2 separate regions of the Homo sapiens genome follow, and region 2 is linked to region 1. A link means that fine-mapping ties the variant in region 1 to the expression of a gene that starts in the linked region. Tissue or cell type: NK cells. Region 1 holds a variant in brackets; the other region holds the start of a gene. All regions are shown on one strand. Distances are between the middles of the regions.

What was found. PIP is the estimated chance that this variant, and not a neighbour inherited with it, causes the effect.
Region 2: it holds the start of USF1, and the variant in region 1 is fine-mapped to the expression of USF1 in NK cells (Gilchrist 2021, PIP 0.95).

What each region holds. Positions count from the first base shown.
Region 1 is chr1:161,139,037-161,145,005 of GRCh38, forward strand. LOC124900457 (small nucleolar RNA ACA64) reads right to left here and starts at 2,300; the gene lies at 2,172-2,300. The variant C/CA (reference allele first, on the strand shown) is at 2,584.
Region 2 is chr1:161,043,544-161,048,543 of GRCh38, forward strand. USF1 (upstream transcription factor 1) reads right to left here and starts at 2,434. Exons shown (of 11, transcript NM_007122.5): 1 at 2,315-2,434. It overlaps ARHGAP30 (Rho GTPase activating protein 30), which reads right to left. Exons shown (of 12, transcript NM_001025598.2): 12 at 3,403-5,000. The coding sequence ends at 4,172. RefSeq lists enhancers at 1,234-1,463, 1,523-2,403, 2,002-3,201, 2,314-2,793, 2,404-3,284.

The sequences.
Region 1 (5,969 bases):
CTAGCACTAGCCCCTTGTCACAAGTATCCTCTTGACTCTTCCAGGGCCACTCGGATCCCTGTGTCCCTACCAGGGCTTTACTCTTCTGCTTTACTCTGCAGGGACTTGCTGACCTGATGATCTGCTCTATTCTTGGTTTCCTATTAACTCTAAGCTGCCCCAGTTACTCATTTTCATCCAGGCATTATACTACTGGCTCCTCCTAATTTCAGTTCAGCTTGGAACCTAGCTCTAAGTCCAGAACTAGAATTTATTGCAGTTCTGGCTTCTATGGCTCCCGAATAAAAGAGTAGGGACCTCGGCCACACATGGTGGCTCATACCTGCAGTCCCAGGACTTTGAGAGGCTGAGGCGGGTGGATTGCTTGAGTCCAGGAGTTCAAGACCAGCCTGGGTAACATGGCCAAACCCTGTCTCTACAGAAAAAAATACAAAAATTAGGCATGGTGGCATGTGCTTATAGTTCCAGCTACTCAGAAGGCTGAGGTGGAAGGATCACTTGAGCCTGGAAAGCCGAGGTTGCAGTGAGCCAAGATCGCACCACTGCACTCCAACCTGGGTGACAGAGCCAGACCCTGCTGCCTCAAAAAAAAAAAAGAAAAAGAAAAAAGGAGTAGGGACCACAATCAGTTGCTGAATCCTAGTGATCTGCTGTTCAAGTCGCCTCAACCTGTTCCCTTTTCTTCATTCCCCAGCTCTGACCCTCACTAATATGACAGGCAAGTTCCTTAACTTCTCTAAACTTGTTTTCTTATCTGTGAAAGAAATATAACATCCACCTTACAGATCATTGTTTTAATGATTATATTAAATGATGTATAGAAAGTGTTGCACAGGGCCTAGTGCTGGATAAATGTTACCTAATATTTATTATTGTATTATATATAACAAGTTTCACCAGGTTTCAGAAATTCAGCAGGCTCTTTATCAATGACTCTTTGCTGCCCCCATGGGGATGACTTTTTCCAAGTCATTGGTTATTCCAAAGACCGTAACATAAAACAACCCTGTCTCACCAATCCCACCAGTTAATTAGAGAATTAACCAATTTTTCTTTGGGTGGTTGTTCAATTAAGTAAAAATGCTCTTATATTCCAGACCATTCTTTTTCAAATAACATAACAGGCTGGGCGTGGTGGTTCATGCCTATAATTGCAGCACTTTGGGAGGCCAAGGCAGGTGGATCTCTTGAGGTCAGGAGTTCGAGACCAGCCTGACCAACATGGTGAAACCCCGTCTCTACTAAAAATACAAAAATTAGCCGGGTGTGGTGGCCCGTGCCTGTAATCCTAGCTACTCAGGAGGCTGAGGCAGGAGAATCATTTGAACCCGGGAGGCAGAGGTTGCAGTGAGCTGAGATTGTGCCACCGCACTACAGCCTGGGTGATAGAGCGAGACTCCGTCTCAAAAAAAAATTTTTTTTTAAATAAATAAATAACAATAGGCCGGGCGCAGTGGCTAACGCCTGTAACCCCAGCACTTTGGGAGGCCGAGGCGGGCAGATCACGAGGTCAGGTGATCGAGACCATCCTGGCTAACAAGGTGAAACCCCATCTCTACTAAAAACACAAAAATTAGCGGGGCGTGGTGGCGGGCGCCTGTAGTCCCAGCTACTCAGGAGGCTGAGGCAGGAGAATGGCATGAACCCAGGAGGCAGAGCTTGCAGTGAGCCGAGATCGCACAACTGCACTCCAGCCTGGGCAACAGAGCAAGACTCTGTCTCAAAAATAAATAAATTAAATAAATAAATAAATAAACAATAATAAGGTTATCAAAAGGTTGAAAGTAAAATTATAGGAAAAGATAAGCTATGCAACATAAACCAAAAGAAGCTTATGTTAAAATCAGACACAGTTGACTTGAAGGCAAAAAGCATTACTAGAAATAAGGACATTTTATACCAATAAGTTTAATTCACCAGGAAGTTAAAAAATAAATTTATTTATTTATTTATTTATTTATTTATTTATTTATTTATTTTAGACAAACAGCTTTATTTGAAAGACGGGGGACAGCCAAGTCCCCCTGACCCTGCGGTCCTGGCAACGTCGGTCTCAGGCGTAGGAGGACCAGTGTCCTGCGGAGAGAAAAATAGGGTTAGGGGTCTGCAGCCGGGGTCAGGAGTCAGGGGTCAGACCACGCGAGCAGCCACACCCGGGGGGAGGCCGCGGCCCCTGTCGGGGCCTGGGTTTCACCGTCGCACATGGCGGCAGCACGCGGTGAGCTGAGGCCCCCGGAGGCTCTTGCGCGCCGAATTTCACCCGCGGCCACGGCCAAAACCGGGGGTGATTTTCAACCAACGCCGGAAAACATTTCTAAATTTGTATGCACTTAACAAAACCTCAAATAATATACAGCACCGAGCTACAAGGAAAAATAGACAAGTTCACAATCATCGTAGGAGATTTAGCACACCTCTCTCAATTAATAGAGTATACTTCTTTCAGAACTGATAGAAAAAGTCAGGGCCAGGTGCAGTAGCTGATGCCTGTAATCCCAGCACTTTGGGAGGCTGAGATGGGAGGATTGCATGAGGCCGGAGTTCAAGACCAGCCTGGGCAGCATAGGGAGACCCTCATTTCTA[C/CA]AAAAAAAAAAAAAATTAGGGGCGGGCGCGGTGGGTCACGCCTGTAATTCCCAACACTTTGGGAGGCCGGGGCGGGCCTGAGTTCAGGAATTCGAGACCAGCCTGGCCAACATGGCGAAACCCCGTCTCTACTAAAAGTACAAAAATTAGCTGGGTGTGGTGGCGGGCACCTGTAATCCCAGCTACTCAGGAGGCTGAGGCAGGAGAATAGCTTAAACCCGGGAGGCGGAGGTTGCAGTGAGCCAAGATCGCGCCACTGCTCTCTAGCATGGGTGACAAGAGCAAGACTCCGTCTCAAAAAAAAAAAAAAAATATGCTGAGCATGGTTGTGCATGCCTATAGTCCCAGCTACCCAGGAGGCTGAGGTGGGACGATTACATGACCCCAGGAGGTTGAGGCTGCAGTGAGCTATGATGGCACCACTGTACTTCAACCTGAGAGACAAAATGAGACCAACTCTTTCTCTAAAAAAAAAAAAAAAAAAAAAGAGAAAGAATAAGAAAAAATCAGCAAGGATATAGAAAATTTAAATAACACGAGCAGTAAATTTGATTCAACAAGCGTATAGAGTCCACTATACCCAACGACTTCAAATTACAAAGCACATGTTCAAGCACATTTGGAACATTTAAGAAACTGACCAGATTGTTCTATAAAGCAAGTTTCAACAAATTTCAAAGGCTTCAAATGATGCAAAGTATGTTTCTTGCCTACATTACAGTGAGGCTAGAATCAGTAACAAAAAGGTAACTGGGAAGTCCCTATGTTTACAAGTTAAATACAGCCGGGCACAATGACACATGCCTGCAGTCCCAGCTACTTGGAGGCCAGAGGATCCCTTGATTCCAGGAGTTTAAGGCTGTAGTGTGCTGAATACATTTTTAAATGACCCACAAAATAAATCACAATTGGAGTTAGAAAATATTTTGACCTGAGTGATAATTTAAAATGTCACAAAGCATTCCGGGCACCATGGCTCAAACCTTTAATCCCAGCACTTTGGGAGACTGAGGCAGGTGGATTGCTTGAGGTCAGGAGTTGGAGACTAGCCTGACCAAATGGTGAAACCCCATCTCTACTAAAAATACAAAAACTTAGCCGGGCGTGGTGGTGGGCACCTGTAGTCCCAGCTACTCAGGAGGCTGAGGCGAGATAGTCACTTGAACCTGGGAGGTGGAAGTTTCAGTGAGCCGAGATTGCGCCACTGCACTCCAGCCTGGGTGACAGAGCGAGATTCTGTCTTAAAAAAAAAGAAAGAAAGAAAGAAAAAAGGGCCGGGCGCGGTGGCTCACGCCTGTTAATCCCAGCACTTTGGGAGGCCAAGGTGGGCAGATCACAAGGTAAGGAGTTTGAGACCAGCCTGACCAACATGGTGAAACCCTGTCTCTACTAAAAATACAAAAATTAGCCGGGTATGGTGGCGTGTGCCTGTAATCCCAGCTGCTCGGGAGGCTGGGGCAGGAGAATCGCTTGAACCCAGGAGGCAGAGGTTGCAGTGAGCGAAGGTCATGCCACTGCACTCCAGCTTGGGCGACAGAGTGAGACTCTGTCTCAAAAAAAAAAAAGAAAAAAGAAAAAAAAGAAAAGAAAAAAATGTGCTTAGAGGAAAATACATAGTCTTAAGAGCACATAAGAAAAAAGAGCCTGGATGTGGTGGCTTACACTTGTAATCTCAGTGCTTTGGAAGGCCAAGGAAGAAGGATTGCCTGAGGCCAGGAGTTTGAGACCAGCCTGGGCCACATAGGGAGACCCCTGTCTCTTTTAAAATAAGTAAGTTAATAAATAAATAAAAATTTTAGGATGAAAGAAAAGCTGAGAATTTGTGAGTTCTGCATCCATCTCAAGAACCTAGAACAGTGAATTACACTGAAAGGATTTAGAAGATTGGAAATGTGTACATAGAGATGTCTGGAAGAATATATACCTAAAATGATAGTGGCTTTTTAAAATCTCTTGGGGTGGTATTTTTGGGTTAATTTTATTTTTCTCTATTGTTCAAATAAGCTAAAACAAATAATAAAGCCATTGTAATTTTTGGGGGTAAAAACACTAATGGAAATTTTTTTTTTTCTAGACTGAGTCTCGCTCTGTCACCCACGCTGGAGTACAGTGGCACAATCTCAGCTCACTGCAACCTCTGCCTCCCAGATTCAAACGATTCTCCTGCCTCAGCCTCCCGAGTAGCCGGGACTACTGGCACCTGCCACCACACCCGGCTAATTTTTGTATTTTCAGTAGAGACGGGGTTTTACCATGTTGGCCAGGCTGGTCTCGAACTCCAGACTTCAAGTGATCTGTCTGCCTTGGCCTCCCAATGTGCTGGGATTACAGGCATAAGCCACCGCGCTGGGCCTGAGGAAAATTTTTAAAAAATAATCGAGACTGCTGTTATGGTGACACCACCACGAGAAGCTACAAGCAAAATACTGATAACCTCATATGTGAAAATTTTTCATATTGTTTAAAATATTATGAACAAAAGAAAAGACAAATAACAAACTGGGAAAAATATTTACAACTCATCACAAATGGCTAATCCTTTTAATGTTAATATTTAAAAAAAAATACAAATCAGGTCAGGCACAGTGGCTCATGCCTGTAATCCCAGTACTTTGGGAGGCTGAGGTGAGAGGATCACCTGAAGTCAGGAGTTCAAAACCAGCCTGGCCAACACGGAGAAACCTGTCTCCATTAAAAATACAAAAAGTAGCCGGACGTGGTGTGGGCACCTGTAATCCCAACTACTCGGGAGGCTGAGGCAGGAGAATCGCTTGAACCCGGGAGGTGGAGGTTGCAGTGAGCTGAGATTGCACCACTGCACTCCAGCCTGGGCGACAGAGCAAGAATCTGTCTAAAAAAAAAAAAAAAAAAAAAAAAAAAAAAAAAAAAAAAAAGGCTGGGTGCAGTGGCTCACACCTGTAATCCCAGCACTTTGGGAGGCCCAGGCAGGTGGATCACGAGGTCAGGAGATGGAGACCATCCTGGCCAACATAGTGAAACCCTGTCTCTACTGAAAATACAAAAATTAGCTAGGCGTGGTGGCAGGCGCCTGTAGTCCCAGCTACTCAGGAGGCTGAGGCAGGAGAATCGCTTGAACCTGGGAGGCGGAGGTTGCAGTGAGCTGAGATTGTGCCACTGTACTCCAGCCTGGGCAACAGAGCGAGACTCCATCTCAAAAAAAAGAAAAAGAAAAAAAAGACGGGGCATGGTGGCTCATGCCTGTAGCACTCCCAAATCCCAGCACTTTGGAGGCCAAGGCGGGTGGATCACCTGAGGTCGGGAGTTCGAGACCAGCCTGACCAACATGGAGAAACCCTGTCACTGCTAAAAATACAAAATTAACTGGGCGTGGTGGTGCATGCCTGTAATCCCAGCTACTCAGTAGG
Region 2 (5,000 bases), 96 kb before region 1:
AGTGTTCCCCATCCCTCCATTATCACTCCAACTCCTGGTGGAGAGTGGATAATTATACTGGAAGACAGAAACAACACTTTTTTTTTTTTTTTTTTTTTGAGACAGAGTCTCTCTCTGTCACCCAGGCTGGAGTGCAGTGGCGCGATCTCAGCTCACTGCAACCTCTGCCTCCCAGGTTCAAGTGATTCTCCTGCCTCAGCCTCCGGAGTAGCTGGGATTACAGGTGCACACCACCACGCCTGGCTAATTTTTGTATTTTTAGTAGAGACGGGGTTTCACCATGTTGGCCCGGCTGGTCTCGAACTCCTGAGAGCATGATCTGTCCACCTCGGCAGCCTCCCAAAGTGCTGGGATTACAGGTGTGAGCCACTGCACCTGGCCGAAACAACACATTTCTTTCTTTTTTTTTTTTTTTTTTCTGAGACAGAATCTTGCTCTGTCACCCAGGCTGGAGTGCAGTGGCACAATCTCGGCTTACAACCTCCATCTCCTGGGTTCAAGTGATTCTCCTGCCTCAGCCTCCTGAATAGCTGGGATTATAGGTGCCCACCACCACGCCCAGCTAATTTTTGTATTTTCAGTAGAGATGGGGTTTTACCATATTGGCCAGGCTGGTCTGGAACTCCTGACCTCAGGTGATCCGCCTGCCTCGGCCTCCCAAAGTGCTTGGATTACAGGCATGAGCCACCGCACCCAGCCAACAACACATCTCTAAATGGATCATTAAAGCTATTATGACCTGCCATGATGGCAGCTTCATGGGAATCAGGAAGGGCCATGTATTGGCCCCACCATCAAAAAATACAGTGTCATGGACACTGATGCTTCTTCCAGTTTCTCAGCCACATGTTGTCCATCAAGACATTTCTGTTTTCAAACCTAGGAAGAGGAAATCTGAAGCCCACTACCACTGGAAGAATATCCCTGACCACAAAGACTAGACTTGGCATTTGGGCCCCATTCTACTGACAGGACTCTTGTTTTGGGGTATCCAGATTTATATAATCTGTTAGAAACCCTAAAGCCCAAGTGGATCCTCTTCAAGCATTCTCTATTTTATTCATCAAGCCTTCCTGCAGAACAACACTGTTGCTAAAATGTTGCTATGACAACTCCAAATCAACTAAGCCTGAGCAAGAAGGGGTAAAAAAAAAAAAAACAGGGTTCTGAAGAAGAGACAAAGGGGGAAGAATCCACCTACAAGCTCTGCCTTAGGACCCTGACACCCAGCCAGAGGGCAGGAAAAACAAAGAGCTGGGCAGACATGCCTCCAGAAAGAAACAGCTACACAGTACAAAGCAATAAGATAATCCCAACACAAAAGGGGCAAGATTTTTGGAAATTCTCTACCCATAAGGTCCTCCAAACCTTTCCTATCCAAGGAAAATTTTCAATGGATAAGCCTCGGAAAGACCGCGTCCGAGGAAAATGTTGAAAAAGGAACTGAAAGTGAAACCGTACAGACGAAGTAACGCTGCAAGGAGATCCCAGTCGATAAGGGGAAGTAGCACTAGTGTTTTGGGACCACCTACATTTCCATCTTCAAACCTGAAGAGGAAATGCCCTGCGAAGCTTGCCGCGCTGACTGCAGGGGAAGGCAATGAAATAGAGGGCCCGGCACAGGAGGCATCTCTATTGGCCACAGCTGTCAGCCGGGGCAGTCTCTGAGGACACCCAGCAACGGGGTCAGGGTACTTATTCAAATCTTAGTTGGACATCCGGAAGCATTTCCTAGGCATTAGGGATCGGTGACACGGAAACAGGGATGGGACGTTGTGGTGTGCACGCTCAGGCCAGAAGGGCCCAGTAAGAGCCCTTGCTAAGTCTGGACACAAAGGGAAAAAAAATCAACTCCCGAAAGAAGTCAGGCACCTAGACCTTGCCTTAGAATGAGGCGTCTCCCTGCAGGCTCACCAACCAGAAGGCGCTTACGGAGCTGAGCGCCCGCCAGGCGCGAGCCCGGGAGCCTGCGCCGTGACCCCGCAGCCCCGCAGTCTTAGCCCCGCGCCCCAGCTGCTCCGCGGAGGAGGCAGGAAAGGGCCTCGGGGACTAGGGAGCTCAAGCGCCCGGTGCCGGCGGCTGCGGCGCGCAGCTGGACAGCGCAGGAGGGCTGGGACGCTCGCGCTCTGGGGAAGGGAGAGAGTTTGGCCCACAAAGCAGGGTATGAGATAAAGAACCAGCACAGCCCCCTCCCCCAAAACAAAGGCTTCCTCCCCAGCAGTGTTCTCTAACTTGAAAAACGGAAACAAAATCAAAGCTGCCCTGCCTTGCCAGTCCACCCAGTTTCCAGACTTCTGCCCGGTCCTACACTCACCGGCCAAGGCCGTCTCAGCTGCCGATTTTCTCCAACTGTGTTCTCCCTCTCCCGGCCTAGGTATCTCCATAGACAGCTGCTCATGCGCACTTCCAGCCCGCGGCCATGTTGGTGAGGGGCGGAAGTGTCGCTCTCGCCCCGCCCATAAACTCAAACTCAGAACTGCCCCACTTCCGCTCACTCCATCTTGATGAGAGTTGGTGTTTGTGGGTTATTTGTGAAGCCGGAAAGAAGCCGTGTCCTGGAGAATGTAGCTGAAGGCCTGGCCACTTTCGACAAGAACGGGAAAGAGACGACTAACTTGTACTAATATCTTAGTGCTTGGCAGGGCATTTTTTCATTCCAGGAAAGAAGAGAATCCAGCTGAGATCAAGGGAGGGACGTCCGACGGAGGCGCCATCTTTAACAAGGGCTATTTGGGAGGCCATCTTGGCGCAGGGCGTCTTTTTGAAAGGTTACCTGCTAGAGATTACGACCTATCGGGGCATGCATAGAATTGGATATGTTCCTTGTTATTCGCGTCAGCAGTCACTCATCCAAAGACCCCAAAGCTTCTAGTGTTCTAAAGGCTCACACCTTCTGTGACAGGAATCTTGATTCCCATTCTTCTCAATCAAGACCTACCCTGAATGGATTTGGAGTAGTGTGGTATAATGGGAAAAATTCAAGCTTGGGGGCCAGGCAGATCCAGGTTTCAAACCCATCTCTGCCACTTCTTACCTCTGAGACCTTTGGCAAACATTTTGACTTAATTGAGCCTTAGTTTCCTCATCTATAAACTGGAGATACTAGCACCAACCTTCCAGAATTGTGTGGATTAAATAAAATCAAGGACATAGATTTTGTGAGCACAGGATACTTAGTCCAGTTCCTGGCACATAATGAACGCATTATGTAAATATAAGTTTCTCTTCCTTATTTCCTGACCACCATGAACCTAGCTCTAGTTTCTGGCCACTAGTCTCCATGACAACAACTGAGGAAGAGCACCCAAACAAGAAGAAGAAAAAGAATGTTTTGCCAAATATGTGAAGATATAATACCTATCACCAAAGACTTTAATAAGAATAATGAGACTCCACACTATGTGTAAAAATACAGCTTTTATTCTGAGACATTGACCTTCACTAGAGTGGGACCTGTGGCCCCAGCCTGGCTGGAGAAGCAGTCCCAGGGCCTGAGTGACACCATTTCCCTTTCCTGAAATAGGAACAAGTTATTCCAAAGGAGAAAGGAGAGCCCAGAGAGATCTGTACAGGACCTCTCTTGCACATGGTGACTGGAGGCAGAGGGTGGGGAGCTGGAGAGGAGTCCAGTCCCTCCAACAAATATTGAGGGCTTCAAAGAGCTCTTCCTGGACGTTTCTCTTAATCTGGATTTAAAAGGGACAGGAGGTATCTTAGGGTCCAAGAACATAACAGGAATGGGCAACTCTAGAAGTGTTTGTGTGTGGAAGGCCCTAACCTGGCCCTGTCCTCCCTGTCTCTACCTTTGGCTTTCATGAAGAGAGATTCACAGCTCAGAGGAAGGGAGGAATTTCTCCAGTCTTCACTTTAACAAACTCTTTTAAGTTTTCTGCCTACCTTATGTTCCCTTTGGCCAATGACCCACTCCCTGGGAACAAGATCTTGTTGACTTTCTTGGGAATCTCCTAAGAGATAAGTGCTTTGTGTCGGAGACAAGTTCAGGTAAACCAACCAAGGCAGTGCCTCCCACAGTCAAAGAGAGAAGCTGGAGGGCCAAAGCCTATAGAGTTGGGCACTACAGCTGCTCATGCTGCAGAGGAGACAGCTAGTCAGGAACCCTGGAGATTCAAGACAACTTGCTGGTCCCCTTTGCCCAGGGCTGTGGTCCTAATCACAGTCCTTCACCTTTCCCAGGGTTAGCCTGTGTTTCAAATGCATATGACCTGCGCTGAGAGGACAACAGGGGGTCAGGAACCTGGGGTTCTCTGGGGGGCAGACTAAGACGACTCCGGGATCCAGACCCTTCTGCACCTTCAGATGGGAGCTCCAGGCAGCTAAGGGGCCGAGGAGAATGGGCAGAGATCATGCTACAAGGGGAGGTTCTGGGGATGAGGCAGTAATCCCCACCCTCAGTACAGGTCTGGGTTCGCCGAACTCCTTGAGCCTCAGTCCTTTGGCGGTCCCGGGCTAGGGCCACAGCAGCATCAAAGGAAAGACTACCCCCATTCCTCCAAGAGGATCGAGAAGCTCGGGACCCCCAAGCCCTTTCTCCAGGAGTCCCATCAAGCCGGCCAGGCCTCGGGCATGGATTTGCAGGTGCCACATGAATCTTGCTACACATTGCACTGGGCATCTTGGCAAACTGTGGCTTGGGGGGCACCACAGGCACAGAGCGGACCTGTTGGACCTGAACCAGAGTGGAAGCTAGACGCATGCCCACGCCACCCAGGCCAAGAGAACAGGGGCATAGACAGCCGTCTGGACTGGGCTGCCCCTCAGGCTCCATCTCCTCTGGCTGAGGTGGCTGTGGGGCTACCTCTTCCATCTCAGAAGAGTGAGGATTGCCCTCTTTGGCACAGTCAACCTCCAGGGACGCTACACCTGAACCTTCAGAGAGGGTGTCCTCTTCTAAATAGTACCCTCCAGCCCTCTGGTCTCCCTCAGCCTCTCCATCCCCACTCTCCCGTTCCTTGCTGACCTCCCCTGCTCCTCCTTCAGTT